2 linked regions of the Homo sapiens genome follow. The protein of the gene in region 1 purifies or fractionates together with the protein of each later gene. This does not show direct contact. Each region holds a gene or a part of one and is shown on either strand. Other genes may lie near its edges.

What was found.
Region 2: the proteins of CLIC5 (region 1) and NME6 purify together in Homo sapiens (affinity purification with mass spectrometry; one large-scale study listed by BioGRID and IntAct). This does not show direct contact.

Annotation. Positions count from the first base shown.
Region 1 is NC_000006.12:46,013,651-46,017,560, reverse strand, and holds the start of CLIC5 (chloride intracellular channel protein 5), read left to right. Parts: upstream 1-1,700; 5' UTR 1,701-2,018; coding exon 2,019-2,081; intron 2,082-3,910. UniProt on the Homo sapiens protein: In the soluble state, catalyzes glutaredoxin-like thiol disulfide exchange reactions with reduced glutathione as electron donor. Can insert into membranes and form non-selective ion channels almost equally permeable to Na(+), K(+) and Cl(-).
Region 2 is NC_000003.12:48,299,253-48,303,162, reverse strand, and holds the start of NME6 (nucleoside diphosphate kinase 6), read left to right. Parts: upstream 1-1,795; 5' UTR 1,796-1,810; exon of another isoform or gene 1,811-1,850; coding exon of another isoform or gene 1,851-1,867; exon of another isoform or gene 1,868-1,893; intron 1,894-2,528; coding exon of another isoform or gene 2,529-2,636; intron 2,637-2,642; exon of another isoform or gene 2,643-2,732; intron 2,733-3,910. UniProt on the Homo sapiens protein: Major role in the synthesis of nucleoside triphosphates other than ATP. The ATP gamma phosphate is transferred to the NDP beta phosphate via a ping-pong mechanism, using a phosphorylated active-site intermediate. Inhibitor of p53-induced apoptosis.

The sequences.
Region 1 (3,910 bases):
TAAGAAAAGCAGTTTGTAGAGCAGTTGAGAGGACAGGCTCAAGTCTGTCTGGGTTTAAATCCTGACTTCACCATTTCCTAGCTGAATGACTAGGGATAAGTTACTTAAATACTTCATGTCTCAGTTTCCCCACTTGTAAAATTGGGATCATTATACTATTTGTAAATATTATACAAGTTCACACATGTAAAGTGCTCAACATTTTTGCCTAGCACATAATAAGTATTATTACTTATTTTTTTATTAAGCGATAAATTTTTTAATAAAGCTATTAAACAAATACATGTTTTTAGTAAGGAAGGACATAGCACAAACAGGATTAATTAAAGAGAAGGCAAAGAAGACAAAGAGAATTCCACCAGATTCTGGTGCAAAACATTCAATAATTATTTTTTAAAGAACTGAAGGGTGGGAATGTCTGTTGGTGCAACCACTTTAGAAAACCTATGGCAGTGTTTACACAAGGAGAGCATTCTTATACACTACAACTCAGCAAGTCCACTCCTAAGTATACATCCAAGAGAAAAGTGTCTGTGAATCCAACCAAAAGATGTTTGATAGAGAGAATGTTCGTGACAGAGTAGTCATGATAGTCACCTGCACAAATGTCCATTGACAGAAGAATGAATAAGTAAGTGTGTCGGTGAAAATGGATGATACACAACTACACATAGCACAATGGATGAATCTCACAAACATAGTAATGAGCGAAAGAAGCCAGACACCAACATTCCAGGCAAAAAGATCCTATGCTGCTACAAGCCAGAATAATGGTTACCCTGGGACAGTGGAGACGGGAGAAAAGATGTGGAGAGGAGAGAGCAGGAGGAGCTTCTAGGGCTGTGGCTAACATTTTATTCTTCATCTGGCGCTCGTTACATGGGTGGGTTGGATTGTGAAAATTCATTGAGGCATACACCTAAGATATGTGCATCTTTTCTGTGTTTGCATCCTACTTCACTAAAACAACCAGAAGAGAACGGGAATGAAGTAAGATCAGAAAATAAAGGAAGAAATAGAAAGAAAATGAAAGAAGGGAGAAGAAAAATAAACAAACCCAGAAGGCTGAAAGGCATGGAAGCCGCACCTGACCGGGTTGACTCACCCCTCTGCCCCAGGAGCCACCCCTGCCCTGCCCTGCCCGTCCCCAGCACCCTACTCTCCTTTTGCTTAGCCCAAGGATGGCAAATGCCCCTTTTGGTGGGGGTTCTGAGCATCACTAAGACAGGAAGGGCTTTCCAAGTGGGTAAGGCTGGTAGTGGAGTAACTCGGAGGAGCTGACGCTTTATTAAAGAAACAGAAGACTTGAGAGCCATCTCCTCTCTTCCTTCCCCTTCCCCTTTCCCCTTCCTCTTCCCCTTCCCCTTTCCCCTTCCTCTTCCCCTTCCCCTTTCCCCTTCCTCTTCCCCTTCCCCTTTCCCCTTCCTCTTCCCCTTCCCCTTTCCCCTTCCTCTTCCCCTTCCCCTTCTCCTCGACTCTTTCTGCCTTCGCCTCATTATCCGCCCCCAGGACATCCTCTTGGCCTTGGTGGCTTTGCCAGGACCAGCTCTGTCTCCGCCTCCTGCCCTGCGGGGTCTTGGGGCGGGGGGCCGTGGCCCGGCCCAGGCCCGAGCTGCCGGGGTGTCCCCGCCGCGTCCCCGCCCGGCTGACCCCGCCCTGCAGCCGCCGGCTATTTTGGGCGCGTTGGCGGCGGCGGGATCGCTGACAGTCGCGGATCCTGTGACACCTCCGGGCAGCCCGGCACTTGTTGCTCCCACGACCTGTTGTCATTCCCTTAACCCGGCTTTCCCCGTGGCCCCCCGCCTCCTCCCGGCTTCGCTCCTTTTCATGTGAGCATCTGGGACACTGATCTCTCAGACCCCGCTGCTCGGGCTGGAGAATAGATGGTTTTGTGAAAAATTAAACACCGCCCTGAAGAGGAGCCCCGCTGGGCAGCGGCAGGAGCGCAGAGTGCTGGCCCAGGTGCTGCAGAGGTGGCGCCTCCCCGGCCCGGGACGGTAGCCCCGGGCGCCAACGGCATGACAGACTCGGCGACAGCTAACGGGGACGACAGGGACCCCGAGATCGAGCTCTTTGTGAAGGTAGGTCGGGGTCCAGTCTCCCGCCGCACCTGCCGCGCCTCCCGCCGGGCTCACCCACCAGGGCTCGGGGTGCGCTGGACTCCGGACCCTCCCAGGAGGGCGGCGCGGAGCCCTGTGCTCCCCCGTGGCCTTTCCGCAGGCCAGCGCCCCGCTGCGAGGCTCCTGGGCGGAATGGAGGAAGGCAGGTTCCGGCAGGTGGCCGTCTTCTCGGAGAGTTGATCCGCAGTTTGTCCACCCCCGTCCCCGCCTCCGCTGTCACCGCTGCGAGTCCGAGTCCAGAGCCCAGCCCGGACGCGATTCAGGCTGGTCCTGAAAGACGTCTCCAGGTGTCGGGATGCGGCAGAAACCTGGCTGGACCCGTGAACCTTTCCTTTAAAACGGGAGGAGGGGGAGGAATGGGAGAGAAACGTTATTGACACAATGATCTTTGGCAAAGCGAAAATGACATTTCTTAAAATTCTCTTTCTCTCTTTCGCTCAGAGATCCTAAAATAAAAGCCAAGGAGACAAAAGTGTTTTCTTGCTTGGTGACTTGCAAAGCAGAAAACAAGCACTCCATTCTCCGACGTTATTATTTTTGTCATAATCATGATTTTTCAAGGCAGTATCAAGGAAATGTTAGGCGTTTGGTAGTAGGGAGAGCCTCCCGTTCAACCTGATGCAGACAGGGATGAAGGAGCACAGTGCAAATTAAATGAAGTCACCTTGCTCCTTGGACAGAAACTGCCTAATGTCAGAGCTGCTGTACTTTATTTGCAACCTGTAGGAGGAAGGATGGAGGCGAGGCTGCGGCGGCGTTTCCCGGTCCGCCGGTGTAAGGAGAAAGAAACATTTGATCAGCCCTTGGTGCCGACGCTGCAGAAGTAGGGAAACCTGAGGCTGCGGGAGAGTAGCCTCCAGGGCTGAGCAGAAACAGTCGCCAGGACTTGGGGGAGGGGAAGTCGGGGACTGCCTGGGCGCCAAGACCTTTCACAAAGGGGGAAAACTCTCTCAGTGCAAAGTTTCCCTAGAAATATGCAGATCGCTGAGAAGGGAAGAGTCACTGGTGCCTGTCAGGGGCCTCCTGGCAGAATTTAAAAGGCATAAATATTCCCTGGAATTGGGAAAATGTTATTTTGCCCAAAAGATCCTTCTCTACAAGCTAATTAAATAGATGTTTGCAAAAAGTATGAGATCTACATAAACCTTGATAACAATCTGTGGTCTTTGGTACTTTCTGACTCTTAAAATGTGACTTACTTTACACTTGGTACGTGATCTGTCTCCGTTGTCCCAGCCTACCACAAAGGTTTGTTAAATTTCTTCTGCTGGGTTTTACATTCTTTGTGTTTATTTTTCAAGCTTACACCTGACATTTAGTGACACTTGCTTTCTTCAGCCTGTTCTCTTCCCACTGTGGCCCCTGTGTGCTCCTTTGGTTTCTGGGACTCCCCCCACCCCCACCCCAGGCTGGATTTCCAGGTCCTTTGGCAGACCCAGGTAATAAAGGAGGTCATTTCTCGTCTGATGCTGGGTAGTGTTGGACCTTAGGGCAGCAAGGGGGTGTTCTGAACCCCAGCATCCAGGCCTGGGCCCTAGGGGTGAATAGGGAGAGCTTTAACAAAGCGATGAGTCTTGCTGCTCTCCTTGAAGAAAGCGATTCTAGGACTTACTCAGATTCCTTGAGAGTGGTAGTTTCAAGGTGTCAAGTTTCTGAAAGATATTTGAAACACAAATAGGTTCTTTAGAACCAAAGGAGCCCTTTGCCCCACTCCTAGGTGTGGAGACCGATTCTACCTGCACCTTTGGAATTTTCTTGTTGGCAGTGTTGGAGAGTCTCTCCATTTATAT
Region 2 (3,910 bases), on another chromosome or scaffold:
ATGCTGGCTGTGGCCCTCATCTGCTGGGCCATGGTGGTTATTGTGTTGCTTCTTTTGCTGTGTCCTAGAACAGGGGCTTTACTGAGCCACCCATGTCCTCTGAGAGCTTTGCAACTTACAAGGACTGTTCTCTTCCTTCAGGGGCTGGGATGACTTGCTGATTTAAGCCCCTTTGTTGAGATACAGAGGTATTGTCATAATGACTGGGACTTGTGTTGCTCATCTTTGAGGAAGATTTGTTTAGGCTTGCTGTTATCCACCATATCTTTTATTTAGAGTAGTTTGCTGGCTAACTCACTGGGTCCTTTGGCCTACTGCAGATTCAGTTGCTACAACTCCGTCAGTGATTCCGTGTAGGGAGAAGTAATGGGTTGTCATTTTTGGAGTCAGGGTTGGGGGCCTGGGGTTTGAGAATCAGGTCAGAATTCATGGGTTGAGGTTTAGGGATTTGAGGTTGGGATTAGGAGGTTAGAAGATAAGCATCAAGGGCTCAGGATCTAGAGACCAGGTCTAGGATTAAAGGATTATAAATTTAGGGACTAGGGCTTGGGTTAGGATTGGAACTGAGTAGCAGAGGAGTTAAGATTAGAATAGGGGGTGGTGGTCAAGGGTCTAAACAAAAAGAGAAGAGATGCAAGGGTCTGCGGAGAGACTGGAAAAACTTTCCTCGTAAGTTCCCAAAGGTGACTGGGTATCAGGAAACTATTGGGAAGTGGCTTCTTATTGCTGCAGGGACAGAAGCCATGAGTTGGGGATAAACCTTCCAAGAGGGCAACACCTGTGTAGGCAGACACCGAAGTCAGTTAAATGTGCAAGTAAGTCTTTACATTGATGACAGTTATCGTTTATTTTCATTCTTCTCATTCTCAGTGATTTCCCTCAAAAAAAAAAAAAAAAACCCAAGAAACCAAAACACTTTTTTTTTTTTTAACCATCTTTATTCAACCTGTCACCAAGTTTCTGGTCACCTGCCACAGCTGACCCCCGATCCATTCTCCCTGTCCCCATCCTCTCCATACATCACAGTACACACCAGGAATACCCCCAGTTCTCATCTCCTCACCCTGGGCTGCGTCAATAGACTCCAGAGTAACCCAAACCACACCCTGCTGCCCAGATTCCTAATGACACGTGAAAGGCCGTTATGACTTGCTTTCCTCATGCCCTATGCACACCTGGGCTCCAGCCAAGGATCCTCCTTCATCAACCCCCATATTAGCTACGATCCTTCATGCTAATGTATCGCTCAGAGCTCAAAAGACTTTGAAGGGCCTGTGCCTTCGCTATCGAGCGCTTAAGTTCTTTGCCCTCCGCGTACTTTTGACAAATACTGGGCATCAACCATGTTCCAGGAACTACCCTGGGCAAAGAAAATAACTGGGCAAGGTTTCCATCGGTGTCTCTGCTGGCGGGCATCGCCCCCGCCGGGCCGCCACCCTGAACGAGCCCGTCCGGTCCTCTGGGTTCCGCCACCCTGCGTAGCGCTGCGCCAGCACCCGGCCCAGCACTCCCTCCCGCCGAGGGCGCCCAGGCCGGCTTCCGAGGGCGCCCAGGCCGGCTTCCGAGGGGCGGTTCCCACAAGCGAGTTCCGGCGCCCAGAACGGCTTCATCCTCTCGTCCCGTCCGCGGCAAATGCATGCGCCTGGAAAACCCGCCACCCTCCAGGGCAACTCACACCTCACCTCACGCCGCGGCGCAACCGGACTAGGACCCCGAGCAGGGCTGCCCAGGGAGCGCCTGAAGGACCCTGCGAGGGCCGCAGGCTATCCAGCGTGGCGCCTGGTGGCCGGGCCCTGTGCCGGAGGACAAGGTGAACCCGCAGCCGGACTTCTGCTGCACTGGGGCTCCGAATGACCCAGAATCTGGGGTGGGCTTAGGCCCCGGGTACGAGGGGTGAGGGCTGCGCGGTTGCAGGCCTAGAGAAGTAGGGGGCTGGGTCGAGAGTTGAGGCCGTGAGCCCGGGGGGCTGGAGGGCGTGGCCACGGGGGTAGGGGCGCAGGTCCCGGCCGCGCGTGGGTGGACCAGGGCTGGGCCGCCGCCCTCCAGGAAGCGAGTGGTGGCCCCCTCGAGTGCTGGGGTGGCAGTGTACCGACAGCTTTACTTTTTTTTTGTTTTGGAGACGGAGTCTGGTTCTGTCGCCAGGCTGGAGTGCAGTGGCGCGATCTCGGCTCACTGCAGCCTCCGCCTCCAGAGTTCAAGTAATGCTCCTGCCTCAGCCTCCCTAGTAGCTGTGACTGTAGGCGCGCGCCGTTATGCCTGGCTAATTTTTTTGTATTTTTAGTAGAGACGGGCTTTCACCATGTTGGCCAGGATGGTCTTGATCTCCTGACTTCGTGATCCGCCCGCCTCGGTCTTTCAAAGTGCTGGGATTACAGGCGTGAGACACCGCGCCCTGCCTAAAATTTTTAATTCTCATGGAGTCACCTTTAAGTCTAACAGGATTCTCGACTTGTCAGTTTGTTGTAAACCAAGAGTCAAGACAGCCACAACTTAGCTGCGTTAGTAAAGGAACCATGTCCTCCCTACAGGCCGCGTGTTCTTGCCACGAGAACCCCTAGCAGCCTGGCCTTGGAATGGCTGGATGAGGTGCATTCGTTGGTTCATTCAGATACTGTTAAGAGCCAGCTGTGTGCTAGGTACTGCTTACACCTTCTGGTGGTGAAGACGGAACTGAAGGGAACTTGCAAGGAGCTGTGAGAAAGTGTAACGGGAAGTGAGCTAAGATCACTAAGGTGGGCAGGAGGCAACCAGAGAAAGCACATTCAGGACTGCGAAAACTACTCACACAAAGGCTGTCAAGCCAGAAATTCTTTCAAAACTGAAAGGCCCATGAGGTTGGAGCTAGAGAAACTTAAGGAGTGTGGGGTTCCAGATGAGGCTAGAGAGGTACGTGGGGAACCACAAGATCATGCAGAGCCTGGGAGGCCGTGATAAGGATTTTGGTTTTTATTCTAAGAACAGGGTGCCCTTTAAAGGGTTAAGGAGGGGAACCATATGATTAGATTTTCATGTGTGGTTCACTTTGGCTGCTGTGTGGAGATTGTAGAGGTTGGCAGGACAGAAACTGGGAGACCAAAGAGGAGGCTGTCAAGATGTCCAGAGGGGAATGATGATGTCTTAGAGTTATGGTGGTAGCAGTTGAGGATGGGAGAATGGTATGGGTTTTGAGATATATTAGGTAGGGAAAATTGCCAGAAGTTGGTGATCGTGTGGATATGAAGAGTGAGGGAGGGGAGGTGTCATGGATGTCTCTGTAGACAGTTGCTGAAAATGACGTGTTACCACCTGTGGCATTAGGGAGAGTGGGTTAGCTGATCTTGTACTGGTTAGATTGGGTGTGGCTTTATGGTTTGAGTGGAAAATCAGGTTGAAAGCTGTAGAAAGGACATGAATAGGAGCGACCATGGCAGTTTCTTTGCTTGGGCCAGATTCTAATACCACCTTTAACATGATTGACAGTTTTTAGGATAAGATAAATGAGAATGTTGTCTAGACTCTGTCCCTGCCTATGTTAATGGAAGCCTTCTCTGTATTTGTCGACAAATGATTTTATATATATACACACATATATATTATATATATATACACACACACACATACACACATATGTAGTAGAGTCAGGGTCTTGCTTTGTTGCCCAGGTCAAACTCCTGGCCTCAAGTACTGATATTACAGGTGTGAGCCACTACACATGGCCAAATGAGAGATAATATTGAGATAAGATTTTGAGACAAAGTCTTTACTCCTGCAGAGGTGATAAATTTCTCACGTATAACTCGGATTTCACAATTGGAAAAGACCTCAAAATTCCCTTAGTCCAGTTTATAAAATGCTTTTATGTCCATTATATCATTTCTACAATATTGAGCTCTTACACCATGCTAGACATTAGGAATACAAAGATGAATAG